Homo sapiens: one gene and its partners. The protein of the gene in region 4 purifies or fractionates together with the protein of the main gene of each other region. This does not show direct contact. Each region holds a gene or a part of one and is shown on either strand. Other genes may lie near its edges. The genes, in order: MAGEC1, IPO5, KRT2, LRRC31, ITGB4, PARP4 and UGGT1.

The links.
Region 1: the proteins of LRRC31 (region 4) and MAGEC1 purify together in Homo sapiens (affinity purification with mass spectrometry, with the first as the bait; one large-scale study listed by BioGRID). This does not show direct contact.
Region 2: the proteins of LRRC31 (region 4) and IPO5 purify together in Homo sapiens (affinity purification with mass spectrometry, with the first as the bait; one large-scale study listed by BioGRID). This does not show direct contact.
Region 3: the proteins of LRRC31 (region 4) and KRT2 purify together in Homo sapiens (affinity purification with mass spectrometry, with the first as the bait; one large-scale study listed by BioGRID). This does not show direct contact.
Region 5: the proteins of LRRC31 (region 4) and ITGB4 purify together in Homo sapiens (affinity purification with mass spectrometry, with the first as the bait; one large-scale study listed by BioGRID). This does not show direct contact.
Region 6: the proteins of LRRC31 (region 4) and PARP4 purify together in Homo sapiens (affinity purification with mass spectrometry, with the first as the bait; one large-scale study listed by BioGRID). This does not show direct contact.
Region 7: the proteins of LRRC31 (region 4) and UGGT1 purify together in Homo sapiens (affinity purification with mass spectrometry, with the first as the bait; one large-scale study listed by BioGRID). This does not show direct contact.

Annotation. Positions count from the first base shown.
Region 1 is NC_000023.11:141,902,146-141,907,042, forward strand, and holds the start of MAGEC1 (melanoma-associated antigen C1), read left to right. Parts: upstream 1-1,748; 5' UTR 1,749-1,833; intron 1,834-2,571; 5' UTR 2,572-2,669; intron 2,670-2,824; 5' UTR 2,825-2,927; coding exon 2,928-2,931; intron 2,932-3,263; coding exon 3,264-4,897.
Region 2 is NC_000013.11:98,008,991-98,013,206, reverse strand, and holds part of IPO5 (importin-5), read right to left. Parts: intron 3,327-4,216; coding exon 3,194-3,326; intron 3,105-3,193; coding exon 2,983-3,104; intron 962-2,982; coding exon 865-961; intron 1-864. UniProt on the Homo sapiens protein: Functions in nuclear protein import as nuclear transport receptor. Serves as receptor for nuclear localization signals (NLS) in cargo substrates.
Region 3 is NC_000012.12:52,646,250-52,649,542, forward strand, and holds part of KRT2 (keratin, type II cytoskeletal 2 epidermal), read right to left. Parts: intron 2,854-3,293; coding exon 2,758-2,853; intron 2,089-2,757; coding exon 1,924-2,088; intron 1,607-1,923; coding exon 1,481-1,606; intron 712-1,480; coding exon 491-711; intron 1-490.
Region 4 is NC_000003.12:169,842,241-169,846,456, forward strand, and holds part of LRRC31 (leucine-rich repeat-containing protein 31), read right to left. Parts: intron 1-4,216.
Region 5 is NC_000017.11:75,754,673-75,758,318, forward strand, and holds the end of ITGB4 (integrin beta-4 isoform 1 precursor), read left to right. Parts: coding exon 1-143; intron 144-382; coding exon of another isoform or gene 383-541; intron 542-1,028; coding exon 1,029-1,178; intron 1,179-1,756; coding exon 1,757-1,945; intron 1,946-2,031; coding exon 2,032-2,187; intron 2,188-2,270; coding exon 2,271-2,435; intron 2,436-2,527; coding exon 2,528-2,638; coding exon of another isoform or gene 2,639-2,649; exon of another isoform or gene 2,650-2,743; coding exon 2,744-2,883; 3' UTR 2,884-3,146; downstream 3,147-3,646. Other genes in the region: GALK1 (galactokinase), read right to left, coding at 3,384-3,455, 3,538-3,646. UniProt on the Homo sapiens protein: Integrin alpha-6/beta-4 is a receptor for laminin. Plays a critical structural role in the hemidesmosome of epithelial cells. Is required for the regulation of keratinocyte polarity and motility.
Region 6 is NC_000013.11:24,502,336-24,506,551, forward strand, and holds part of PARP4 (protein mono-ADP-ribosyltransferase PARP4), read right to left. Parts: intron 1,443-4,216; 5' UTR 1,442-1,442; coding exon 1,310-1,441; intron 952-1,309; exon of another isoform or gene 820-951; intron 1-819. UniProt on the Homo sapiens protein: Mono-ADP-ribosyltransferase that mediates mono-ADP-ribosylation of target proteins.
Region 7 is NC_000002.12:128,174,257-128,178,472, reverse strand, and holds part of UGGT1 (UDP-glucose:glycoprotein glucosyltransferase 1 precursor), read right to left. Parts: intron 3,701-4,216; coding exon 3,615-3,700; intron 1,660-3,614; coding exon 1,575-1,659; intron 642-1,574; coding exon 553-641; intron 6-552; coding exon 1-5. UniProt on the Homo sapiens protein: Recognizes glycoproteins with minor folding defects. Reglucosylates single N-glycans near the misfolded part of the protein, thus providing quality control for protein folding in the endoplasmic reticulum.

The DNA of each region.
Region 1 (4,897 bases), on a different chromosome or scaffold from region 4:
AGCTGGTACTATTCCTATGCAAACATCCTTTGTTTATTAATAAACATACTTTATTCACATTTATTTCCTTGTCACGAAAGTCTATTTTCTGTCCCAAGATACCCTGAGGATACGCCATTACACTTGTTCATCATGTCTCTTTAAATGCCCTTTGGCTGTGCCAGTTCACTGAGACTTCTCTTGATTTTGAAAACATTGACAGTTTGGAGGTGTATGGTCAGGTATTTTGTAAAATAGCCTTTGATTGGGAATTAAGTGATTATTTTTTATGATTTGATGTAGGTTACGTTTTCTCGGAAGATGAACAGAGAAGTGAAGTGCCATTCTTATCATATCATACCGACGGCACATAATACCAACACAATTTGTCACTGATGATGTTACTTTGATCACCATGGTGACCTAGTGTTTGTCAGTTTTCTTCAGGGTAAAGTCACATTACTTTTTTCCCTGTGTCATACTGTCATCTTGGGAAGGATAGGAAGACCCAGGACCAGCCAGTAGTCAGATGAGGCCTCTGAGGGAAAACTGCAGAAACCTCCTGCCCACAAAGAAGAGGATCCACAGAAACCAGCTCCCCACCTGTTGTCATCCCTGGGAGGCCCAGGGGCATGTTGACCCACAGTGCTGTCCCCTGACGTCTTAGCGTGTAGAAAGAGGAGAAGGCTGTGCTTAGGTGAGTCTCACTTCAGATCATGAGAGCGGAAGATCAGGAGGGGGGCCTTCTAGGCATCCCCAGGCTGATACAGAGGATGGACTGGTGAGCTACCCCACCACGGACACAGGAGGATCCCCAAAAACCTGCCCGTTTTCACTGCTAGGAGGCCTTGGGCAGGGCCATTAGGGAGAGACGCTAGCGTGCTCCAGTCCCTCTTGGGGGGTTCATGGAAATGGGAACCTTGATCTGAAAAACAGTCCCTGGAGAGAAGAGGGAGGGAGTGGAGGCCGTATCAGGAATAATAGGTTGAGGAAGACTGAGGGTCCCTCCCATGCCATTTCAGACGGAGGGCAGTGGAGCCCTACCTGGAGTCTGGGAGGCCATACCCCACTGTGGATGGATGTGATTCTACCTCTCTTGCACCTTGCAGGTCTCAAGGATGGGAGGGGCTTATTCGGAGGTGAAAGACTCAGATGCATAGAGGCAGGGAGCCCAGACAATGTCAGGAGTCCAGGAACAGCCTCTCAGGAAGGCAGGAAGGGAACACCCATGACTGGTAGTGCTGCCTGTCCTGTCCCTGTGCCTGCTGCCAGCCATGGAGGAGCCCATCAGGGTCCCCAGATTTACAAATTTCTGACTTCCATTTTGGGAGTCAGCCAGAGGGGAGATTTTCTCTGAGGAGGGCAGCTTCAGTTAAACAGAGGGAGTAGCCCCAGGGCTGGCCACTCAACAAGAAGAGAACTCTGTCGAAGGACAGTGACCTCCGAACACGGGGGAGGCACAGGCTGCACCCTGCCACTCCCTGCTGTCAGCCCTGGAAAAAGGTGGGGTGTGAGTGTCAAGGACTGGGGAGGTGGGAGGGAAGAGGTCAGCAGGGCTTAGGGAGTGAGCAGAAAGGTTTGGAGCACATCCTGGAGGTGGGAAGGAAGGGATGGAAAGGAGGCTGACAAGCGGGCGGCGGGGGGGGGGCGCCTTCCTCCTCTGAGAGGAGGCCCCGCCCCACGCTATCCGGGCTGTCAGCCCTGATCAACCCTGACAGAGTTCCCGGATGTGCTTTGCCGGATGTGCTTTCCCGGCGGCCATCTTGGGAGTCTGAAGGACCTGAGGCATTTTGTGACGAGGATCGTCTCAGGTCAGCGGAGGGAGGAGACTTATAGACCTATCCAGTCTTCAAGGTGAGGGCCCCGAGGGAGAAGTGAGGGACAACCCCACCACAGAGAGAAGCAGCCCTGGCCTGCCCTATCCCTGCGGTGGCACTTGTAGGTGGCGGAAACGAAGATGGTAGCCGAGGGCTGAGGGACGTGTCCTCACGGCAGAAGAAGGGAGGAAATGCCGGCCCTCTAGAGAATAAATAGGAAGGCATTGAGGAGGACCGGGGGAACCCCCACCTCAGAGGACAGATTCCCAGAGATTCCCACCCTGCTCCTCAAATCAGCCCCCATAGAGCTCCCCAGGTGGCTGAGGCTGAGCGGCCACCCTCTCACTGCTGGGTGAGGGGTGTAGGGGAGGGGGAGGAGGAGGCCTTGTTCTGGGGGTCCCATGGCAAGTCAGCATGGGGAGCTGCCTCCAGTTGGCAGAGGGAAGATTCCCAGGCCCTGCTGGGAACAAGAGTGAGGACTGAGGGGTCACATGTGCGTCAGAACAGACGTGAGGCCACAGGGACCGCCCCCGTGGTAGAGTGCTGGGAGGTGGCTGCCACCTCACTACCTCCCACTGCTCTCAGTGATGTGGAGTTTTCCTGAGGTTTTTCCTCAGGCCAGCAGAGTGGTGGGGGCCTGGCCCTGTCTGAGAAAATGTGACAATGCTAATTGAATTCTGAGGGGGTCACGAACCTCAGAATTGTGGGACTCTGGGAGTCTGGCCAGCCCCAGCTGCCGTCTTAGCTGGAGGGGCTCCCTCCCTTCCTCTTGCAGGTGCTCCAGAAAGCAGGAGTTGAAGACCTGGGTGTGAGGGACACATACATCCTAAAAGCACCACAGCAGAGGAGGCCCAGGCAGTGCCAGGAGTCAAGGTGAGTGCACGACCTGACTGTGTACCAAGGGCCCTACCCCCAGAAACAGGGCAGACCTGGCAGCACCCGGCCTGTAGCCACCCACTGTCATTCCTGGTGCCTCAGGCTCTGCCTGCCAGCTGTGCCCCGAGGTGCTTTCTCGCGTCCTTCTACAGGTTCCCAGAAGACAAACCCCCTAGGAAGACAGGCGACCTGTGAGGCCCTAGAGCACCACCTTAAGAGAAGAAGAGCTGTAAGCCGGCCTTTGTCAGAGCCATCATGGGTGAGTTTCTCAGCTGAGGCCACTGGCACTGTCCCTCTCTCCCTCAGTCCTGTGGGATCCCATCATACCTATTCGTGTTCACACGTTTACCTGCTGCTCCTGAACAATATTCATCATGCCTCTCTTTCTAAACCTTCCACGCCCCAGCTTTGAGCAAGGCTTCCAGAAGGCAATTTTCATACTGGAGTTGGTAGATGCAGAGGATCCCCCAGATGAGGAAGAGGAGGAAGCTTCCTCCATTTTCTCTTCCTCTTTCCACTTTTTATTCCCCTCGTCCTCCTCCTGTTTTTCTTTCTCATCCTCATCCTCCTCTCTGCTTCTGCGTTCTCCAGGGGACAAGGATATGCCTACTGCTGGGATGCCGAGTCTTCTCCAGAGTTCCTCTGAGAGTCCTCAGAGTTGTCCTGAGGGGGAGGACTCCCAGTCTCCTCTCCAGATTCCCCAGAGTTCTCCTGAGAGCGACGACACCCTGTATCCTCTCCAGAGTCCTCAGAGTCGTTCTGAGGGGGAGGACTCCTCGGATCCTCTCCAGAGACCTCCTGAGGGGAAGGACTCCCAGTCTCCTCTCCAGATTCCCCAGAGTTCTCCTGAGGGCGACGACACCCAGTCTCCTCTCCAGAATTCTCAGAGTTCTCCTGAGGGGAAGGACTCCCTGTCTCCTCTAGAGATTTCTCAGAGCCCTCCTGAGGGTGAGGATGTCCAGTCTCCTCTGCAGAATCCTGCGAGTTCCTTCTTCTCCTCTGCTTTATTGAGTATTTTCCAGAGTTCCCCTGAGAGTACTCAAAGTCCTTTTGAGGGTTTTCCCCAGTCTGTTCTCCAGATTCCTGTGAGCGCCGCCTCCTCCTCCACTTTAGTGAGTATTTTCCAGAGTTCCCCTGAGAGTACTCAAAGTCCTTTTGAGGGTTTTCCCCAGTCTCCACTCCAGATTCCTGTGAGCCGCTCCTTCTCCTCCACTTTATTGAGTATTTTCCAGAGTTCCCCTGAGAGAACTCAGAGTACTTTTGAGGGTTTTGCCCAGTCTCCTCTCCAGATTCCTGTGAGCCCCTCCTCCTCCTCCACTTTACTGAGTCTTTTCCAGAGTTTCTCTGAGAGAACTCAGAGTACTTTTGAGGGTTTTGCCCAGTCTTCTCTCCAGATTCCTGTGAGCCCCTCCTTCTCCTCCACTTTAGTGAGTCTTTTCCAGAGTTCCCCTGAGAGAACTCAGAGTACTTTTGAGGGTTTTCCCCAGTCTCCTCTCCAGATTCCTGTGAGCTCCTCCTCCTCCTCCACTTTATTGAGTCTTTTCCAGAGTTCCCCTGAGAGAACTCACAGTACTTTTGAGGGTTTTCCCCAGTCTCTTCTCCAGATTCCTATGACCTCCTCCTTCTCCTCTACTTTATTGAGTATTTTCCAGAGTTCTCCTGAGAGTGCTCAAAGTACTTTTGAGGGTTTTCCCCAGTCTCCTCTCCAGATTCCTGGGAGCCCCTCCTTCTCCTCCACTTTACTGAGTCTTTTCCAGAGTTCCCCTGAGAGAACTCACAGTACTTTTGAGGGTTTTCCCCAGTCTCCTCTCCAGATTCCTATGACCTCCTCCTTCTCCTCTACTTTATTGAGTATTTTACAGAGTTCTCCTGAGAGTGCTCAAAGTGCTTTTGAGGGTTTTCCCCAGTCTCCTCTCCAGATTCCTGTGAGCTCCTCTTTCTCCTACACTTTATTGAGTCTTTTCCAGAGTTCCCCTGAGAGAACTCACAGTACTTTTGAGGGTTTTCCCCAGTCTCCTCTCCAGATTCCTGTGAGCTCCTCCTCCTCCTCCTCCACTTTATTGAGTCTTTTCCAGAGTTCCCCTGAGTGTACTCAAAGTACTTTTGAGGGTTTTCCCCAGTCTCCTCTCCAGATTCCTCAGAGTCCTCCTGAAGGGGAGAATACCCATTCTCCTCTCCAGATTGTTCCAAGTCTTCCTGAGTGGGAGGACTCCCTGTCTCCTCAC
Region 2 (4,216 bases), on a different chromosome or scaffold from region 4:
GCGCATGTCTGTGATCCCAGCTGCTCAGGAGGCTGAGGCAGAAGAATCGCTTGAACTTGGGAGGTGGAGGTTGCAGTGAGCTAAGATCGTGCCATGCACTCTAGCCTGGGCAACAGAGTGAGACCCTGTGTCAAAAAAGAATGCAGATGTGCCAAGTGATGTTTCCCCGCAAAGGTGCTATCCACATTTGAAATGTAGGGTTCTCACTGCTACAGAAAGCTGACCATCTATCAGTGGTTCTCTAATCTATTAAGACAGGTCTTGCCAGGCACAGTGCTCAGGTGTGTAATCCCATAACTTTGTGGGGCCAAGGCAGGAGGACTGCTTGAGCCCAGGAGTTTGAGACCAGCCTGGGCAACATAGGCAGACCTTATCTCTTAAAAAAAAAAAAAAAAAAAAAAAAAATCAAATCTAGCTGGGCTTGGTGTTGTGCACCTGGGTCCCAGCTACTTGGGAAGTTGTGGTTTCAGTGCGTCCTGATCACGCCACTGCACTCCAGCCTAGGTGACAGAGTGAGACACCATCTCTTAAAATAAAAGTCTTATTTTCTTAACGTTTACCAAAAGATATTTGGGGAAAGTAGCAACTATATATAATTGTAATCATTTGCTAATTATCCTTAAATCCTTAAGTGGGCCACAGAAAGCTGACAAACATAGGATAGGTCACGTTTTCTTTTTCATGTTTTGGCACAAGTGGAAACAAAGGCACATGCAGAGAACCGAGTTTATCACCTAAGAGTACACTTAGTGCAAATACAAACAATCATGGTGAAGTCTACTTCAGTCAACACTGTCTAATACTCCAAGAAACTACAAGTTTACTAAATCTAGACATGTTTTGTATTCAGAAGTTGTAGGATATCATCGTGGAAATAAAATTTCAGTAAAGGGACCATCAGTTTGACAACCTGTTCGGTGTACTCCACAAAGCCTTCCTTTAACTCCTTAGCATAGCAAACCTGTAACCAAAGTATTGGGAGGAAATAAAGATTCATGTTAGTCTTCAAGCATTAATATTAACAAACAGCAAAATCATAAGGACCACAGGAGGTTGTATTTTGACTAGAACTACATTTAAAGTTGCATGTAGAACTGTCAAATTAGTCTTCCAACTAAAAAGAGTCTTAAAAGAAGGGTCATGAAATGATTGTAGTATTGGTGAGTGACAAAAAGAAAAAAAAAAAGGAAATTATTGTCGTATATATTGTCCCTTCAAAGGCTGGAATCATTCGTATTCCATTCAGCAAGTTTCAGCAATACATCAAACAAAATGTATCACTTAATTGAGGAAAAATCATTCTAAAAGATACAAAAAACCCTGAAACCATCAGTTAATTGAAGCATTTACTTTGTAAATCTGTAGAAAACGCTTCTGTTATTTTGTATTTTTAAAAAATCATGGCTGGGCACGGTGGCTCATGCTTGTAATCCCAGCACTTTGGGAGGCTGAGGCTGGTAGATCACGAGGTCAGGAGTTCGAGACCAGCCTGGCCAACACAGTGAAACCCCGTCTCTACTAAAAATACAAAAATTAGCCAGGCATGGTGGCGGGCACCTGTAATGCCAGGTACTTGGGAGGCTGAGGCAGGAGAATCGCTTGAACCCAGGAGGTGGAGGTGGCAGTGAGCCGGGATGGCACCACTATACTCCAGCCTGGCTGACAGAGTTAGACGGATCACGAGGTCAGGAGTTCAAGACCAGCCTGGCCAACATGGTGAAAACCCGTCTCTACTAAAGATACAAAAAATTAGCCAGGCATGGTGGCGTGCACCTGTAATCCTAGCTACTCGGGAGGTTAAGGCAGGAGAATCACTTGAACCCAGGAGACGGAGGCTGCAGTGAGCTGAGATCAAGCCACTGTACTCCAGCCTGAGCGACAGAGTAAGACTCTGTTTCAAAAAGCAAAACAAACAAACAAACAAACAAAAAAAACCCCAAAAACCCAATTGTTTCATTCTCTTCTACTACATCTAAAGATTAATTCTGTTTAAAGATGTTATTATTTGTATTTGCTTTCCAGTTGAGAGAAAAAACCCACAAAAATCCAAAGTGTTTATAATTTATAGATACTAAGTATTGAAGATGACAATAAGAAATACATTAATTTCTAAAATCTAACTTTAAAAGTAAGTATTGGCCAGGTGCAGTGGCTCATGCCTGTAATCCCAGGTCATGGCAGGCGGATCACCTGAGGTCAGGAGTTGGAAACCAGCCTGGCCAAAATGGTGAAACCTCATCTCTACTAAAAATACAAAAAGTAGCCAGCTGTGGTGGCAGGCGCCTGTAATCCCAGCTACTCGGGAGGCTGAGGCAGGAGAATCAACTGAACGCCAGAGGTGGAGGTTGCAGTGAGTCGAGATCGTGCCACTGCACTCCAGCCTGGGTGAAAAAGAGAGACTCCACCTCAAAAAAAAAAAAAAAAAAGGATTATCCTTCACTTTAAAACGCATGCTCATAAAGAAAACAAAAAGAAAACTAGGAACTAAACATGCATATGCACACCACAAACACCATAAGGGATAATAACCGAACATTTTGATTTTCCTGCCATATCTGTTTTTTTACACAATTGAAATCATACAAGTTTTGTTTCACATTAAATAGCATGAACACACTTCTGTTCATTTGTTTAAAAAACATTCCATGGCCACCTACTATAGACTAAGAACAAAACCAACAAAAATCCTTCCCTCATGTAGCTTATAAACTTTTTGTAATGGCTGTATATTACTCCAAGGCACAGTAATTCATCTTCCCACTAACAGGAATTTGGGCTATTTGTTGTTTTTTGCTATTTAAAACAGCACTGATAATGAAAGGTTTATCCATACGATTTCTTTAAAATGGAAAGAAAACTTTACTTTTTAAGGAACATATTACTGGCTCTCCAAAGTAATTTCTTTAGCAGCTATTAAAAGCACTCATATGAAATGTATATAAGATGTAAAATAAAAGTTTAGTAAAAACAGTGCTCTCTTACCAACATCTGGCAAGCAGTTGATTTTTCTTCTAGTCCTGCAGTTTTAATACCAAAGCTTTGCTGATCTCCAAGGTTCACAAATTCCCAACCATCATCATCACTCATATTCTCCATGTCTTGGGCTATTAACGGAGAAGAAAACAAATGCATATGAAAAATAATAACAAAGAGAGAACTATTATAACCGATAGCTCCTTCTAAAGACACCTACTATCTAAAAGGGCTACTTCGGGCTTAATTGAAGCCGTCTTCATTAAAGGCCCCATAACCACTGGAAGGTATTGCTGAAATTCTTTTCCAAGGATTTTGCACATTCTGGCCCATGCTGAGATCATGTAAGAGATCTGGGGAAAAATTTTAAAATTAAAATAGATTAAAAAACAATGGGTAAACGTGATAAAGAAAGCCATTTCCTTATTTCATAGAAACAATGTTTTATTGATATGTTCACAGTACTTTAAGCAGTAAGAGCATTTCTAAAGGTTATGTACTTAAAAGGTTCAGAATCAATAATGAAATCCCTGTGAACTCACTACACTGGGATATGGACAGCAGGTGAGGCAAAACACAAAGACCAGAACCTTGGGTATTTCTTTCTACTTTCAGTAAGTGATAATGGTTTTCTTTCTTAGCATCTGAATCATCTAAATGAAACTAATCACCTAAACAAAACCAAACACTTCATCAACTCCCAGTTACAAATTTTTTGAAGACAGAAATGTATTTTATCTGACTCTGTATCCCTATTGCCTGCCACTCCATTCATTAAACATTTATTAAAACCCAAGAAACAAAACATCCTTTTCTCTTAGCTGTTATAATTTTCTCATAAGTGGCTGAGTATATTTAAAACACCTCTTCTCCTATTACTGTGTTTACACAGACTTTATCATCTGCAAATTACCTAGAGAATCTGGTTCCATTCACCACCCCTGCAACCTAGAAAGTGATTCTTATCCCCTGATATCTGTCATCCACCTACCTATTTATCTATTGAGCATGCATGGACACATGCCCCACCTCTTAATGATTTTATATGTAAAAGTCCACCCGCTCTTCAGATAGGTACTGGGTGTTTCTCACATGCCAGGCATTAAACTATATGCTGGCTGATACAAAGGTGAGCAACACGCCTCGTCCTTACCACCCCTCCCTACAGCTTACAGTCCCCTCAGTCTCCCTACTGTCAGCAGTCTGCTAAGTATCCCTCCTGCCTGTTATCTCTGTACATACA
Region 3 (3,293 bases), on a different chromosome or scaffold from region 4:
TGAAAGTTAGCAAATGGTTCCATTTGTCACTCCAGAAACCTGCAAAGAACTGGGGCTGGCACCTGCTCCGGTCAGCACGTCCCCACCAGTCAGCACATTCCGAGACATCATCTCCCCCATTCTGGGTCACCCGGTGGAGGGCACAGAAGCCACTCACCCTATGGACCTAGAGACCAAAGTTTCAGACTGTCTAGGACTAACCTGTTTTCCCATGATTTTGTTTTCTCTTTCAGAAAAGACCAGGATGTTTAACTTACTGCTTAGTTTAATTTAATGTGCCTTATGCATCATTTCATGTTGATAAATGTGTAACTCTCCAATCATGCTTTATGTCCTGAGTTTCTGCTTGGGGAACACAGAGAATGTCAGTTCTCAGTTGTCAGGAGGGCCTGCCCCATTCTCTGCTTTCCCTGTCTTTGCCTCCAGCCCTGGCTCTGGGAGAGATGAGAGGAAGGGCCAGGGTCCCCTTCTCCCTTCCCAGTGCCCTCACCTGCACTCCTCGCCCTCCAGCAGTTTGCGGTAGGTGGCGATCTCCACATCTAGGGCCAGCTTCACGTTCATCAGCTCCTGGTAGTCACGCAGCAGCCGCGCCAAGTCCTCCTTGGCCTGCTGCAGGGCCTCCTCCAGGTCATTCAACTTGTTCCTGGCATCCTTGAGGGCATGCTCCCCACGCTGCTCGGCATCTGCGATGGCATCTTGCACATTCTTACACTATGACAGAAGGACAGAGAATGGATTCTGCCTGACGGAGGCGGACAGAGAGCAGAGGTGTTCGAAGTGCAGGAAGCCAGAACCACTGGCCCTGGGAGTGTTAGGTCCCCTCTGGAGTTTAGTCGCAAACAACTGTGCTAAGACTTGCCGCTGTCTCTGGCACATCTTCTTCCCATGTCACCGTTGATGACACCCTTTGGCTTTCCCCATAGTGCCCTTTGATCCTCACATCACAGGGCCTGAATCATGATCCCATTTTACAGATGGAAATGAAAACATTTGAAATGGTCTGCTTGGCAAAGCTTCTGCTGCTGATGGAATCCACTCTCTGCCTCTACCTTTTCTATTCCAAAGCTAACGTCCAGCCCCAGGCCAGCTGCCCTCAATACTCACTGCCCCTCTATGAAACCAGTCGGCTGGTGCTCAGGGCCTGTGCTGAGCACAAACGGGAAGCTCCATCGGCAATCTGCAGCAAATCAATCAAACTAACGTTTGCTCTATTTGTTATGACTCCCTTTTCCTCATATAAACAAGTGAGCACAATTCTTTCCCTTCGATAATCCTTACTTTGGAATGTCTATTAGAGCACTCTAAGAATTGTTATAATAAGCCATAAATTATGTTAAGCTGGGGAATTTGGGATCGATACATGCTAGAGTGCAATATCTCAGTGTCTCTCATCTCTCACATGCACACTCACACACAACCACACTCTCACGCACACCCAGAGACAACCTCCCGCCCCTCGCTGGACAGGGCTGGGCCTCACCTGCTTCTTCACATGTGCGATCTCCCCCTGCAGCCTCTGGATCACGCGGTTCAGCTCGCTGATCTCTATCTTGATCTCTTTCAGGCTGTCTCCATGTCTCCCGACAGTCACCTGGAGCTCCTCATACTGATATGGGGAGAAGAGGACAGTTTGCAAGGAAGTTCCAGCCTGGCTCACATTCCAGACTGACTGGAGTGAAGGAGAGCTGGTTACTGGTCCAGGGAGGGTCAACCCAGCTAAATGTCATGGCTGCATTCATGAGAGGTAGGGACTGTCTCACATGCCCAAAAGGACTTGGTGCCATTCTCAACATCCTTTCTTGGGAATGGTGCCCAACTACCATTAAACAAAAAACCAATAACCTTACTGTACACTTTCCAGCTGGGGGTGCAACCCAGCTCATGGCAGGGAGCTGTGGCTCTTCCTACATTCCCTCTACTTGCCTTGCTGTGGTACAGGGCCTCCGCTTCTTCCTTGCTCCTCTGGGCGATCTCCTCATACTGGGCCTTGACCTCGGCGATGATGCTATCCAAGTCCAGGTTGCGGCTGTTGTCCATGGAGAGGATGACGTTGGTGTCAGTGACACTCTGATGTATCTGGGATATCTCCTACAACACACAGGAAGGTCTGGTCATGACATCCTGCCATAGCTACAGGCAGACAGGAGGCCTCTGTCTCCCAGCATAAGGGAAACGCAGACCCTCAGACTAAGCATACACTAGGTGGGATGAAAATCATGTAACCGTCTACTCCTGGGCCTCTCCCAAGGTTGTCCTGAGAATTGTAGTGAGAGGCACCTGTATTTCTGAGCCTCCTAGTTAACATTCAGCACTTAAGCCAGTTATGGTAAGTGCCCCCAGACAGAAGCTTGTCCATGGCAAATACCTTAAATGGACTTCCTGTTTCAGAAATCATCTGTGCACCCTTGGGTTGGGGAGGGGGATAGGAGACAAATGCATTTTGACCTCTGAAGTACAGTAGGCACAGGAATGGGCACAGGGCTTGTCTCTTCCCCAGGGGAAATGGACATCTGGGGAATGGAGGGAGGGGAAGCTGTCCTGGTGTTTCCTGAACCTTATTCCCATAACATCGGAGGAGAAAATTCCTCACCCACAAGACCTATGCTATGAAAGCCCCCCCAGTGGCCTGGAATGATGGCAGATTGAAGTCAGCTGGTCCATAAACCCCACTTCTGCCACTTTTTCACCAAGCAGAAAGGACTTTCATTTGGTGAGAAGGGTGGGAAGTAAGGGACTGTCCCGGAGCAGCCTCCTTACCGCATCATAGAGAACTTTCAGAAACTCAATTTCCTGGTTCAGCAGGTCCACCTTGGACTGCAACTCCACCTTTATCATGTAGGCATTGTCCACGTCCTGCAAGAAAGGTTGAGGCCTCTGGTGTATGGTTCCCTGTACAGGCCTCTTCCTCTCTCTGCCACTCCCCTCTACTCAGTCCCTGCTGGCTCCTCTCTAAAATCCCAGGCTCCCCAACCTGATCCCTGTCCCCATGGGACTTCTTTTGTCGTGCAGTTTACCATACACCTCTGCCAGGGACTTCATGCCTACGTCCATGGCTCACAGCCCTCAGGACCATCAGAGCCTCGAGATGACCAAGCTTTGCCAACCAGCCCCTCTCTCCTGCTTGAGACACTGTGTGTTTCTACAACAGGATACGATGTTCTTTGTGGGTTTCCACAGTCCTCAGCTCTCTCATCCCGTCTGTCCATCTCACCTCTCCGAAATTTCCCCAGAATATACACCAAAGGCCCTGCAGGACCCAGCAGGAGAACCCTTGCTTTTGGCCTACAACCTCA
Region 4 (4,216 bases):
TAAAATGTATATAAGCTAGTGATTAACAAATTTTTAATGTTTCTATTAGAAAAAATATAAAAGTGACAATTGCTAAAACCACATATAGTAATACTTGTTTTTTGTTGCTGTTGTTGTTTTTGTTTTTTTGAGATGGAGTCTGCTCTCTTGCCCAGGCTGGAGTGCAATGGCGCAATCTCAGCTCACTGCAACCTCCATCTCCCGGGTTCAAGTGATCCTCCTGCCTCAGCCTCTCGAGTAGCTGGGATTACAGGCACCTGCCACCATGCCCAGCTAATTTGTGTACTTTTAGTAGAGACAGGGTTTCACCATGTTGGCCAGGCTGGTCTCGAACTCCTGACCTCAGGTGATCCACCTGCCTTGTCCTCTCAAAGTGCTGGGATTACAGGCGTGAGCCACCATGCCTGGCCTGTAATACTTGTTATTGAGTAAAAATTCAAAGAAGGAAAATATACCCTGATAAAATGTAAAAGTATAAATTTGACCTGAGAAAAAAACTGTCAGTAAAAATTAAGAAAAAATATACAATGGCTGAAGACATGGTGAATAAAATTTGATGCAGACAAAAATAAAAAAGACCGAAATGAAGAAGCAAATTTTAATTATAAACATTAAATAAAATAACTTAAATATATTTAATGGTGTCTAATTCAGAGAAATAAATAAATAAAAATCAAAAGCTTATTTTTTAGAAGACACAACATCAATAAACCCCTTGCAGTAGTCAGAATTCTAAATAGCCACCTTAAGATTTCCATTGTATCCCCAGGACTGAATGTGGTAGATTTTGCTCCCAGAATTAGCTTAGGCTATATGGCACACCTGACTTTAAGAAAGGGAGATTATCCATATGGAGTCAACCTAATCACATGAGCCCTTTAAAAGCAGAGAGAATTTCCTCCTACTGCTGGCAGAAGAGGAAGGAAGTCACAGAAGTCAGAGAGATTTAAAGTGTGAGAGGCACGGACAATCCACTCCTGTCTTGAAAATGAGGGGCCATGTATCAAGGAATGTGGCTGGCCTCTAGTAGCTGACAGCAGCCCCCAGCTGAGAGCTAGCAAGAAAACGGGACCCTCAGTCCTAAAGCTGCAAGGTCCTCGACTCTGTCAACAAGAATGAGCTTGAAAGTGGATTTATTCCTAGAGCCTTCAGATGAGAACTCAGCCAGGCTGACACCTTGATTTTAGTGTTGTAATACCCTACACAGAGAACCGACACAAGCTGTGTCAGACTTCTTACCTACAGAACTGTGAGCCGGGTGAGGGATGAGAAATTACTTAATGATGCATTATTCATTTGGGTGATGGTTACATCAGCACCCCAGACTTCACCACTACAATATACGCATGGAACAAAACTGCACTGGTGCCCCTCACATTTATATAAGCTTTTAAAAAGAACTGTGAACAAATACATGGATATTGTTTTAATCCACAAATTAACATGTTACACAGCAACAGAAAACTAATACCTTTGGTCAGACTAGCCAAGAATAAAGAGATAGAAACACAAATTATCAATATCAGGAATGAGACAGGTGGTATCACTATGGGCAGTAAAAGGATAACAAGGAAACAACTTTATTTCCATAAATTCAACAACCTAGATGAAATGGGCCAATTTCTTAAAAGACACTATCAGAACTTGCTTAAGAAGAAATAGACAACTGGAATAGTCCTAGCTCTATTTTTTTTCTATCTCTATTTTTTAAATTGAATTCGTAATTTAAAATATCCCACAAAGAAAATTCCAAGTTTAGATGGCTTCAGTGGTGAATTCTGTGAAACAGTTGAGCAATAAATAATACCAATTTTACACAATCTTTCTGGAAAATAAAAGAGGAAGGAACACTTTCCAACTCATTGTATGAGGCTACCTATACCCTCATAACAAAGCCAGACAAAGACATTATAAGAAAACCAGTAGACTATTATCCCCTTGTGAACATAGGCACAAATATCCTCAACAGAATATTAGCAAATAACATCCAACGCTATATAAACAAGATAATACATAATGACCATGACCAGGCTGATTTAACATTAAAAAATCAGCTAATATTATTAATTATTATCATTCATTATTATTATGAATATTAATGAACTATAGTTTTTTTAAATGCTCATCTCAATAGATGCAGAAAAATATAATTTGACAAAATTCGTTATAAGAACTCTTAGCAAATTAGGATTCCTTAACCTGATAAAGGGTAGCTACAAAAAAACCTATAGCTAACATCATACTTAATGGTGAAAAATGGAATGCTTTTCCCCTTAGCTTAGGGGACTAAGACTGGAAGCAAGGCAAGAATGCTCTCATCTCATTCAACATCTATTGGAAATCTAGCCAGCTAAATAACCAAGAAAAAGAAAGAAAAGATACACAGAGATAAAGAAATAAATCTGTCTCTAGGCCGGGCACAGTGGCTCACGCCTGTAATCCCAGCACTTTGGGAGGCTGAGGCAGGCAGATCACGAGGTCAGGAGATCGAGACTATCCTGACCAACATGGTGAAACCCCGTCTGTATTAAAAACACAAAAACTAGCTGGGAGTGGTGGCACATGCCTGTAGTCCCAGCTACTCAGCAGGCTGAGGCAGGAGAATCGCTTGAACCCAGGAGTCGGAAGTTGTGGTGAGCCGAGATCATGCCACTGCACTCCAGCCTGGTGACAGAATGAGACTCCATCTCAAAAAAAAAAAAAAAAAACAAAACAAAACCTGTCTCTAATCATAGATGATATGATTATCTATATAGAAAATCCTACAGGATCTACCAAAAATATCCTACAGCTAACAGATGAGTTTAGCAAGTTTGCAGTAAAATGTCAATATACAAAAATCAATTATATATCCACGTAACATTGGGAATCTAAAATTAAACAGTATCTTTTATAAGAGAACAAAAATTAAACACTCAGATATAAATTTAACAAAATATAAAAACTAGAAAACACCAGTGAAAGAAATCAAAGAGTACTTAAATACAGAGATAGACTGTGTTCATGGATTGGAATACTCAATATTGTTAAGATGTCATTTCTCCCTGAATTGATCTATAAATTCAATGTAATCCCAATAAAATTTCCAGATGGATTTTTAAAATAGATATTGACAATCTGATGCTAGCTTTAAATGGAAATGCTAAGTAACTAGAATAACCAAAACAATTTTGAAAAAGAAACAAAGAATACTTATACTACTTCATTTCAAGACTTACTATAAAGTTTCAGCAATCAAGACAGCGTGATATTGGTAAAATAAGAGACACAGAGATCAATAGAACAGAACTGAGAGACCAGAAGTAGGCCATCACAAATATGGCCAATTGATTTTTCACAAAAATATAAAGGCAAATCAATGGAGAATGGATAGTCTTTTCAGTTAATGGCACTCAAATAATTGGACAGTAATATGCAAAAATATTAACCTCTACCCATACCTCATACCTTATATAAAAATTAACTCAAAATAGGTAATAGGTCAAAATATAAAATGCAAATACAAAGCTTTAAGACAAAAATATGGAAAAAATCTTTGAGAACTTAGATTTGCAAAACGCTCTAAGATGCAACACAAAAAAACTCTATTCATCAAATTAACAAATTGATAAATCTTTATCAAAACTGAAAGCTTTGATCTGCAAAAAAACACTATCAAGAGAATGAAAAAGCCAGTGGGACAGACCCAGAGAAAATAATAGCAAATTATATTTCTGATAAAGGACTTACTTGTATTCAGAAAAATCTAAAAAACTCTCCAAACTCATCAATAAGAAAACAAACAATCCAATTTTTTAAATCAGGCAAAAGATTTAGAACAGACATTTCACCAAAGGAGCTAAGAAATGAAAATACACACATAAAAAGATGTTTGACATCATTGGTCATTAGGGAAATGCGAATTAAAATCACAATGTTTTGTCCCCATCTTCTAATTACAATCATTTTTGCTATAACACTTGTTTTGAAAACACAAGTTTATTTCAATGAGATTGAAATGTCAGGAAACAATCTGAGTATAATGCAAATTTCTTGTTTGCATTATGCACACAATTTGTCCACAGGAAACACTAGGTGAACATATAAAACTGTCCCCAGCTGAATTGAGCTGCATATAGAAATAAACAGCCTGGGCACGGTGGCTCACGCCTGTAATCCCAGCATTTTGGGAAGCCTAGGCGGGTGGATCACCTGAGGTCAGGTGTTTGAGACCAGC
Region 5 (3,646 bases), on a different chromosome or scaffold from region 4:
CCTGAGCCCACACGTGCCCCACCGCGTGCTAAGCACATCCTCCACCCTCACACGGGACTACAACTCACTGACCCGCTCAGAACACTCACACTCGACCACACTGCCCAGGGACTACTCCACCCTCACCTCCGTCTCCTCCCACGGTGAGTGACCTCAGCCAACCCTGCCTCTCCCACTAACCCTTCCTCTCTTCCAGCTCCTGGAGCCTCGGGCTTCTGTCTGCTGTCCCCACCGCCCATTCTCCAACATACACACACGCATGCACACATGCACGCACACACGTGCACACGCATGCACACATGTACACAGACATGCATGCGCACACGTACACACATGCATGCACACTCCCTGCTCCTCTCACTCTTGTTTTGTCCTGCCCTAGGCCTCCCTCCCATCTGGGAACACGGGAGGAGCAGGCTTCCGCTGTCCTGGGCCCTGGGGTCCCGGAGTCGGGCTCAGATGAAAGGGTTCCCCCCTTCCAGGGGCCCACGAGACTCTATAATCCTGGCTGGGAGGCCAGCAGCGCCCTCCTGGGGCCCAGGTAGTACAGGGGTGGCCATCCTGTCTCCACAGCTGTCCTGCTCCATCTGTCATCCAGCCACCATAGCAGCCGCCAGCTGTGCCCACTGCTTCCCCTCCATTCCATCCACAGGACCCCCGCCTGCCCACAGGCGCTAACCACCTGCCCTACCATCAGTGCTGATGCCTAACTCTGCCTCTGCCCTCCCAGGGGGCGGGGCTGGGGCTGGGGCAGGAGAGGGGCCAGGCCAGCTGAGCAGTTGAGGGGGTGGGGCTGGCAGACTCACGGGGCTCACTCTCTTTTGGCACAAGCAGGGCCTGCACCCTGCTGGAGGATGTGCGGTAGGTGCTGGGCAGCCTGGACAGGGTGTTGCAGGGTGAGTGAGTTGTCCAGCCAGCGGTCAGTGTAGACATGCCAGCTGAGGGAGGGAGGTCAGGGGGCAGCACTGTGACTCCCACTGAGACCCTAGCCCCTGCATCTCTGGCTGACTGCGGCCTCCTGTCCCCAGACTCTCGCCTGACTGCTGGTGTGCCCGACACGCCCACCCGCCTGGTGTTCTCTGCCCTGGGGCCCACATCTCTCAGAGTGAGCTGGCAGGAGCCGCGGTGCGAGCGGCCGCTGCAGGGCTACAGTGTGGAGTACCAGCTGCTGAACGGCGGTGAGGCATGGTGGCTGCCAGGCTGCGGGGTGCAGCCCTGCAAGGCCTGGCCCCAGTGTGACACATAGGGTACCTCAGCTGTGTCAGGAACCCACCCAAGTCCCTTGAGCGCTAAAGCCCCCATCCAGCCTGAGAGGGTCTCCCACCCCATTCTCCACCCCACTTCTTTGCCTCCCCTCTTCTGAGGTCTCACCCACCTCCCTGGGCCTCTCTCCTGGTCATTCTCTGCTAGGTTTTGCCTAACAAGGCCCCTTTGGGCTGGGATCCTAGGGCCTCTGCTGGCCTGAGATGCCTTTGGGGGAACAAGGAAGTGGCACTTCCCTGGGCAGGCACATTCAAAGCAGCATGACCAGGATGCAGGATGTTGCCTAAACATGAGTGGGATTACAGGCTCCACTCTTGTATAGTACACAATCTGAACAACCAGCCATACCATACTGTACCCAACCTGTACCCAAACCACAGCTAGTCCTGGGTGGGTGATAACTAGGTCTCGATGGCAGCTTAGGGACGAGGAGGATCAGGCCAGGGGTGGGAGTAACACTGCACTACTGTGTGCCCCCACCTGATCCCCCCAGGTGAGCTGCATCGGCTCAACATCCCCAACCCTGCCCAGACCTCGGTGGTGGTGGAAGACCTCCTGCCCAACCACTCCTACGTGTTCCGCGTGCGGGCCCAGAGCCAGGAAGGCTGGGGCCGAGAGCGTGAGGGTGTCATCACCATTGAATCCCAGGTGCACCCGCAGAGCCCACTGTGTCCCCTGCCAGGTGAGTTGCCTCCCCCAGCCCCAGAGCTGCCCCCATCATGCCCACCACCCACCCACAGGCTGATGCTCTTCCTCTACTGCCCCCAGGCTCCGCCTTCACTTTGAGCACTCCCAGTGCCCCAGGCCCGCTGGTGTTCACTGCCCTGAGCCCAGACTCGCTGCAGCTGAGCTGGGAGCGGCCACGGAGGCCCAATGGGGATATCGTCGGCTACCTGGTGACCTGTGAGATGGCCCAAGGAGGAGGTGCTGCCCACCCCGGGGGCAGGAGTGGCCAGGGGAGGGGTAAAGAGGGGGCCGCAGACGCTGAAGGCATCTTCCCTGCTCAGGGCCAGCCACCGCATTCCGGGTGGATGGAGACAGCCCCGAGAGCCGGCTGACCGTGCCGGGCCTCAGCGAGAACGTGCCCTACAAGTTCAAGGTGCAGGCCAGGACCACTGAGGGCTTCGGGCCAGAGCGCGAGGGCATCATCACCATAGAGTCCCAGGATGGAGGTAGGCACCTGTCCTTTCCTTCACCCCCACCCCTCCTCGGGCCGTGCCTCCTTCTGGCACCACCCTCTGACTGGCCTATCTGCCCACCCCAGGACCCTTCCCGCAGCTGGGCAGCCGTGCCGGGCTCTTCCAGCACCCGCTGCAAAGCGAGTACAGCAGCATCACCACCACCCACACCAGCGCCACCGAGCCCTTCCTAGTGGGTGAGCACTGAGGGCTAGGGGATCCCGGCTCTCCTGGGACAGGGAGCTAGCAGAGGGAGAAGGGCAGACCCCAAGCCAGGTCATCTAATGCCTCCTCCTCCACAGATGGGCTGACCCTGGGGGCCCAGCACCTGGAGGCAGGCGGCTCCCTCACCCGGCATGTGACCCAGGAGTTTGTGAGCCGGACACTGACCACCAGCGGAACCCTTAGCACCCACATGGACCAACAGTTCTTCCAAACTTGACCGCACCCTGCCCCACCCCCGCCACGTCCCACTAGGCGTCCTCCCGACTCCTCTCCCGGAGCCTCCTCAGCTACTCCATCCTTGCACCCCTGGGGGCCCAGCCCACCCGCATGCACAGAGCAGGGGCTAGGTGTCTCCTGGGAGGCATGAAGGGGGCAAGGTCCGTCCTCTGTGGGCCCAAACCTATTTGTAACCAAAGAGCTGGGAGCAGCACAAGGACCCAGCCTTTGTTCTGCACTTAATAAATGGTTTTGCTACTGCTAGGCCCTGCCTTGCCCATTCTTCTGGGGCCTGAGAGGTGCTCCCCTAGGGTAGGGGAGCGGTTCTGACATCCCCCATTCTCTGACACCCAAGCATACACCCACCTCTAGAGGAGGCAGGTACCACATTGGAGGCACAAGTTTATTGAGCACCCGGATATGGAAGATGGCACCGGGCACAGAGCCGTGGGACTGGCCTGCAGGCCCCGCACCCTCACCGTGTGCTGTCCTGGGGGTGCCTCACAAGCACAGCACCTTGGCTCCATCGGCTGCTTGAGAGAGGTAGAAGGTGGCAGTCCCGCCGTAGTGCTCCTGTAAGAGGCGGGCTGGGGGTGAGTGGCAGGGCCCCGGGAAGCTGCCGCTCCTGCCCGCCCAGGCCCTGGTGCCCGCCCACCTGGATGTGCCGCATGGCGTGGGGAGCAGCGGAGGCCTCCAGCAGTGTCACCGTGCAGCCACCGAAGCCACCGCCCGTCATGCGGCTGCCATAAACCCCAGGCACAGCA
Region 6 (4,216 bases), on a different chromosome or scaffold from region 4:
ATTTTATTTATTTTTTAATAAATAGTAAATTCACATTGTAGAATATCTAAAAAATAAAATAATGACGACGTATTAACTTCATCCCCACTGTTGTCCCCAGTTCCTCTCTGCAGAGGCACCTGCTGTCACTTGCTCCTCGCGAATCCTGCTAGAGCTACACTATGCGTAGATACATGGCAGCGTGCTCCTCAGCCTCTTCCGTGCTGGCTTTTCCACTGAAATTATCTTGGTGATTGTTCCTCAACATTACATATACAGCTGCCTCATTATCTACAGTAGCTGGGATGCACATTTCACATGTTTATGTACATTGACTTCCACAAAGTTGCACTCACAGTATGTGACTTTCTAAAAAGGAGAGACCATGTTGGCAGTTCACACAGAAGACAAACTGAGAAGGGAGAGCAGGCACGAATTACTCATCTGTCCAGAGATGGTGAGACAGCTCAGTGTGGGAAGCTGTATAAGGGAAGTATATACAATTCTACCTGAATTGGAAGTAAACAGGGACATTGCATTTCTGGTATTCAGCTGGAGTTGAACACGCTTCACAGAACAGATGAGGCTCACAATGGCCAAGCCCCAGGGCTGAGGTCCAGGGAGGGGCAGGGTGAGTCAGCTCATCAATTCGTCAACAGAGGGAACAGCAGAGGACAGGGGCAGGCCAGCCTGGCACCTAGAGCCTTTGGATTTCTATTTTTACAGTGAGGTGGTTTAAAAAAGAGGAGGTTAAACTGAATTATTTCTAAGATTTCATCCAGCTGTAAAATCCTATTATTCTGAACTGCCAGGCTTACAAGTTCAAGAGGCAGAAGGTAAATTCCTGCAGCCTTTAAATGAACAAAACAAACAGCACAAGCTACACTGCGAAGATGAGTCTGCACTGCATGTATTTCTTTCTACACCCAGGAACCTGGCTTACCAGTATATCACCCCAGCGTTGACATACTGGTGAGTGACGACAGTGCGCTTTTTGCAAATCCTGTGCACTATGACTTTTCTCCTTCAAGAATAGATATGGCTGGTCTGAAATTCTATTTTCATATTTGGCTGTGCTCTAGTAATATCCTGCTTCACAGGACATGTAGGATTGTCCTGCAGTTCAGGGAACAGGGAGGGGACAGGGCTGGGCCACCTCTGCCTCTAGGAGCCCAGCCTCCCAATGGGCCATGTCAGTCTCTCCTGATGAACTTCGAGTAGCTCACTCACTCTCTCCTGCTGCTAATCTCTGCTTCCTCTTCTAACCATGACCCTGTTCCCTGAATGCGCAATGTTTTATCACACTGTAGTTTATGACACTTGGAAATACCTGAGGATTTAACGAAAAGGAAAACTTTCCGCCATTTTCCTTAATGTCAGTTTGTAGCTTTTTCTTCTGCTGCTGAGGTAAGTACTTCACTTTCAAACAGAAGATACAATTTGCAAAGATTCCCATCACCATCCTGTAGGAAAAAAAGTTTTTAAGGACCCTCTCTTAAGTCAATATGACAGTGAATTTAGAATTATTATACAAGCAAACTGTGGGAAAATTGGGCATTATCTTAAGAAAGATATTGCAATCATGTTATCAATAGAACATTGCAAAAATTGAATAATATCCTAGCTTGCAATATGTGTGTTGGTTTAAGAATCGTTTCTAGCTTTTATGGTTGATATTACACCACCAAAAATCCCTTTGTACAGGCTCATGATATACATCTTAATAAAAACATGACAGATTTAAGTTACAGATCAAGTGTGTGACTCCAGAACATGGAACCATTTATTTCTAAATTAGAAATTAACATTATTTGATAGTGAAACCATGGGTTTCTTTAATATATAATTCTATGCATTCAAAAAGACTCTTTATGTGGACTTCTATTAGGCCATTCTGGGGAAAAACTGAACAGCTGATAATAAAAATATACAACTATGTTTAAATGGAATATGTATGTGTGTGTATACACATATATATTCTGCATTTAGGTTCTTTTTTTTTTTTTTTTTTTTTTTGGAGACGGAATCTCACTCTGTCACCCAAGCTGGAGTGCAGTGGTGCGATCTCAGCTCACTGCAACCTCCGCCTCCCTGGTTCAAGCGATTCCCCTGCCTCAGCCTCCCGAGTAGCTGGGACTACATGCGCGCACCACCACACGTGGCTACTTTTTATATTTTTAGTAGAGACAAAGGTTTCACCATGTTGACCAGGCTGGGCTCAAACCCAGCCTCCCAAAGTGCTGTGATTACAGGTGTGAGCCACCACACCCAGCCTGGGTTAATTTAATTAATTTACTGTACAACACATTCTCAATTTTGCATCGAAATGTGTATTTAACAATAAATTAATACATGGTGAAAAATTGTGTTTAATTTCCATTTTGTAAAATTTTTTTTTTGAGACAATCTTGCTCTGTCACCCACGCTGGAGTGCACTATTGCAATTTTGGCTTACTGCAACCTCCACCTCCTGGATTCAATTGATTCTCCTGCCTCGGTCTCCCAAGTAGCTGAGATTACAGGCGCCCACCATGACACCTGGCTAACTTTTGTATTTTTAGTAGAGTCGGGGGTTTTACCATGTTGGCCAGGCTGGTCTTGAACTCCTGACCTCAAGTGATCTGCCCACCTTGGCCTCCCAAAATTGTGGGATTACAGGCATGAGCCACCGCACCTGGCACACCCCCGCTTTTTTTTTTTTTTTTTTGAGTCAGGGTCTCACTCTGTCACCCAGGCTGGAGTGCAGTAGCAGATCTCAGCTCACTGTAATCTCTGCCCACTGCAATCTCTGCCTTCCGGGAAGAGAAGGTGAGGGTTAAAGAAAGACACACACACACACACAGAGGAGAAAGAAAGAGAGAGGAGACAGAGCTAGAGAGCGCGAGCTTGACAGCAAATGCGGCTTTATGTGCAGCACAAAACCTACAGAAGTAGGGGACCAGCCTAATGCCACAGCCCACTGCTAAGTCTTACAGGCTAAGGGTACTTATAGGTATGGGCGGGAGGGGTCTGGGCAGCATGGCTTGTTGCCCTGCAAGATATCGATAAGATGTTCCCATGATTTGTATTGATTTGTACAATAAGGGTTCTGGCCCTTATTCAGGTGGATGTCATCATGGTGTTCCTTGGACGTTTGCCCAAGAAGTCATGAGAGGGAAGTTTCTTCAGATAAGCCTCTGTTGGCCTTGCGGTCAAGTGGTTAGGAAGGATGTTTCTCACCGCCTAAACCCCCCAGAAATGTTTCACTTTGCCCAAAGTCTGCAAAATAGCGGGCAGCTTACAAAATGTTGCAGTTTGTGCTAACGCTGGGTTCAAGCAATTCTCCTGCCTCAGCCTCCCGAGTAGCTGGGATTACAGGCCCGCGCCACCACGCCCGGCTAATATTTTTCATTTTTAGTAAAGACAGGGTTTCGCTATGTTGCCCAGACTGGTATTTGTCAATTTTTAAAAACAAGGAGTCACGTCTAACAGGCTCCCCGCAAAGTAAGCTGCCATTTGGCGACAGCAGTTTCCAAGTCCTGTATTAGTTTGAGGATCGCGGTTCCGGGTCCTGTGTTAGCTTGGGCAGGCAGGTCAGGTTCTCTGCCGCGGCCCACGCGTCTTGGGACTAAGCTGAGTTGCTGAAAGCCCACCGCCCTGCACCGCGATTGGGCTCCGCCATTTCCCCTTTGCCTGCCCTTTCACCTCCCACTCCTACAGGCCAGAGGCCCCACCCTACCTAGTGCTGTGTCTGGAATTTGTGGGTTCTTGGTCTCACTGACTTCAAAAACGAAGCTGCCTGGACCCTCGTGGTGAGTGCTACAGTTCTTAAAGGCGGCGCGTCCGAAGTTTGTTCCTTCCTTGGTCTCACTGACATCAAGTATGAAGCCGCAGACCCTCGCAGTGAGCGTTACAGTTCTTTAAGGCGGCGCATCCAGAGTTTGTCCGGAGTTGTTTACTCCTACCGGTGGGTTCGTGGTGTCGCTGGCTTCAGGAGTGAAGCTGCAGACCTCCGCGATTTAAAGGCAGTGCGGACCCAAACAGTGAGCAGCAACAAAATTTACTGCAAGGAGTGAAAAACAAAGCTTCCACAGCGTGGAAGAGGACCCCAGCAGGTTGCCACTGCTAGCTCGGGCAGCCTGCTTTTATTCCCTTATGTGGCCCCACCCACATCCTGCTGATTGGTTCATTTTATAGAGCGCTGATTGGACTGCTTTGACAGGGTGCTGATTGGTGTTTACAATCCCTGAGCTAGACA
Region 7 (4,216 bases), on a different chromosome or scaffold from region 4:
AGCCCCTATAACAATAAGGGTAAAAAAAAGACCACTTGAAACACTCATACAGACACACGGCCTTTGAAAGTAAGAGGAAAGAGACTGCGCTTCCCATCCTTCCCTAGCGGGTGAGCTGCAGCAGGAGTGGTTATGAAGCTTCCCTCACACCCTGGAGAGACCACAAGACTGACAAAACCAACCTACAAAAAGAATGTTCACTCTCCGACAGTGTTGTTTTAGGAAGAGACTGAACACAGGCTGCACCAGAATGCAACTTACACAACGGGAAGTAAACTGAGCAGGGAGCAGTCAAATTTCCAAAGAGCAGGTACAGGCAATGAGAGTCACAAAGTATGGAGCAGAAGTAACTTCCCCACTAGGAGACATGAACCTCTTTTGGATCAATCGAGTGGAAAATACTCATCTATGCCAAATATAAGTGTGAGATGTAGCTGCACAAAGTAGAATGTGAAAGGCCCAGACAGAATCACAAGATGCAAAAAGGAGGGATGGATGGTGCTTATATCTCAGTTTTTCCTTAAAAACATAACTCTTACAATGTCAACTTACCATTTGAAGGAATCCCAAAATCCAGATTCATTCTCACTCGTTCCATCACTCAGCAAGTCTTCGTTCACCATATCTGCCTTCTTCTGAACCTGCAATCAAATGTGATAAACCTTACTCCCAGTATGTCTCACAGGCATAAAACTGCCTCTCACTGGATATACACTGTGAGCCTGTCATCAATAGGGAATTATCAATCAATTCTCTCACAAACAGGCACAACCCCACCCAGAGTCTAGAAGGATTCAATAGAAGTATCTTCGCCAGGACATTCACATCATAACCTTATGTGAGGAGACAGCAACCTCTTTTAATTAGATGAACCCCATTTTCAGCTTGCAACATAGGCAAAGAGCCGCAAACTCAACTGTGCAGTGAAACCAGAAGCACGATTCAATGAGTCAACAGCTAGTTCCAGGGAAGAGTGTGGCTGCTGGGGGCTCTAGCTGTTGGGAGGGAGGTATTTCATGTTATGACCAGTTTTCAGGATTCACTAGCACAAACAGGGGTTTCTTCTTGGCAGTACAGTGACCATTTTTCTTCTCAACAATGGATGGCCTATTTTAGGTTTCACTGTGTGTAATGATTCTTTCTTCAAGAATATACTGTACTTGAATTTAAGGCACTAAGAGCTTCAACATTCAGAGAACGGAAAGTACAAGTCAAAAGAAATTAAATAGGACTATCATTTTATTATTGTTGAAAATTTCCATTGCCAGTTCCCCCAATATTGAGAAAAGAATCATCAACAACACTATGAATTGTGGCTATATAAACAACATAGCATCTATGAGAATATTTTATATAAGATGGGACATGTTCTGCACACCGAGATTACCCAAAAGGTACAATCTTTCAGTTGAGGGAAGCCACAAACTCACAGTTACAAAGACATTTTGCCTTAAAGCAGTATCCCTATAATTGCCATAGCAAATTCCAAAGAGACTCTTGGGCTGGTTCCAAGATACATATTTTTAAATGACAGCTGTCCAATAACAGAATGCCACTACTTTTACCAAACTCACCTTCACTTTAATAATTTTGCTTTTGAAGTTGTTGAGGACGATAACCACCTCATCAGCATCAGGGGGAGAATCAGTGCCATCGTGGCTTTGCGAGAAAAGAAAGATCAATATTACAAGGCACAATTCTCAAAAGGCAGCAAATGCTCTCAGAGCATCTGAGTCCATCATCCTTCTCATAAAGGAGTTTTCCAGATCCAGCTATCTTCTTGCTCCTTAAGCTCCTTCGAGCTGCACAGAAGCACGTGTTGAAACCTCTCTTTATATAAGGTGCATGCCCAAACCTCCTTTGTGAGTCCTCTTGCAAATTACCCATCACGTAGTGAGAGGCACCCATGTGTGGTAACCACATGGTGAGTACTAAACAACCGCCTGTGTTCACAAGCTCTGAGCCAAGCACAGAGCCTTCGATAAAGGAATGCAGGGAACAGGCCCCCTGAACCATTATTGGAACCACACTGCCTCCGCTCTTTTTTTTTTTTTTTTTTTTTTTTGAGACAGAGTTTTGCTCTGTTGCCCTGGAGTGCAGTAGAGCAATCTCGGCTCAATGCAACCTCCACCTCCGGGGTTCAAGTGATTCTCCTGCTTCAGCCTTCAGGTAGCTGAGTTTACAGGCACCCACCACCACGCCTGGCTAATTTTTGTATTTTAGTAGAGACAGGGTTTCACCATAGTGGCTAGGCTGGTCTCAAACTCCTGACCTTAAGTGATCCACCCTCCTCGGCCTCCCAAAGTGTTGGGATTACAGGCGTGAGCCATCACCCATCACTCCCGGCCACTACTCTTTAACTGGAATAGTGTTGTAAAGGAAATCTGCTCGCTCTTTCTGCCGGAGGCAACAATCAGTCAACAATAGGCCCTGTACTCAACCTGGTGTCTATACGCTACCAGAAAAACTGTAACAAATTCTATTTGCAGGCAGACAGGAGCAGAGGAAGAAAAATTAAATGTATGTTTCCCTACTAATCAACAGCAATGCCTAAAATTTCCAGTCACCAAATTTCAAGGTGCAGAAAGTCATAATTACAACATGAATTCACTGCATTTGCTGTCATCTAGCAGAGAGTAGGGTTCTCAGGCAAAGGAAGATTCTAATGGGGGTGGGGCCCTGAACAGCTAGGAAGAGGGGGCACCATGCTCCTGGGAAGGGGAGGGCTGGCAAGGGCCAGGGCATCCAAAAGGGAAGGAGTTCGGAAGTGCATCCCAAATTTTGTAAAACCTTATCTGAGGAAAATGTTATGTGGGAAAAAACCTTCTACTGTTTACAATGGTGTTATTATAATACAGAATTCTTCTATTTCCTGGGTAAGAACCAGGCACTAATCCACTGTTTCATGTGTGTCGCTACGGAGCTAATTAAGGCAAGGACATACTACAGAGTGCTTCAAATGTGCCCTAATGGAAATCATCCCCTACACAACCTGACGGGAAGCCTCTTCACACAGTTTAAAACTAATTTAAATTGTGTTAAGCAGAATTTATATCAAACTTTTTTAAAGGCAACATAATTATTTTTAAACTAATAAATATGTGCAGTAAACCTTAAGGTAAAAGCTGGCTATAGAGGGAATGTTCTTACTATGCCACCACAGACCAAGGAATACCAGCACTAACAGCACAGCTTCAAGACCAAAGCTTCCATGTACTGTGCATTTGCAAATCACTCAGGGTCAACACATACACTCTCTGGGCAGAAAAGTGTGGCTGTTCTTTCTTTCTTTTCTCCTTTCTTCAAGTTTCTCATCTGCCTATCTATGAGCCGCATCACACTGATAGAATGATTTGATTCTGGGATATTGTTAGCACAAAGGAATAATTAAAGAATAAAGCCTGACTATACTCATTAGCATCTATACCTCTTATTATCTAATTCTATTCTAACAATTCTTCCATATTTAATTTCCTGGAAAAACCACTGTTTCATCACATACAACTGCAAATTAAATTCATGTTGCCTGGCTAACTGCCAGGGTAGTATTCAATTAGAGCTAATGCTCATTTCTAAAAGTTCTGGGATAATGTAACTGCATCACTTACTCCTACCTGTAAATTCTATAAATATCTTCAGAGCGTCCCTTCCTAAGTCTGAGGATCCAAGCTCCTGGGTTGGCTTTCAGCTGAAAGTAGCCCTAGGACAAGAAGAAAAGTCCAGTTAGCTCTCTTCAAAACACCAAAATGTTATTTCTGAGGAACAGTTACTTCTATTTCTGAAATATCAATCAACTATAATGTGAATAACACAGTAAACAAATCAATGCAACTCTTAAAAAACCAAAACTACACATTAAAAACTCTAGCACAGACCAGGTGCGGTGGCTCACGCCTGTAATCCCAGCACTTCGGGAGACCACGGCAGGTGGATCAACTGAGGTGAGGAGTTCGAGACCAGCCTGGCTAACATGGTGAAACCCCATCTCTACTAAAAAAGGACAAAAATTAGCCGGGCATGGTGGTGGGTGCCCGTAATCCCAGCTACTCAGGAGGCTGGGGCAGGAGAATTGCTTGAACCTGGGAGGCGGAGGTTGCAGTGAGCTGAGATCACACCACTGCACTCCAGCCTGGGCAGGAGTCTCAAAAAAAAAAAAAAAAAAACTAGTACAATAAAGGCCAGTCACACCAATAAATCATCTGCTCTTTAGCTGTGC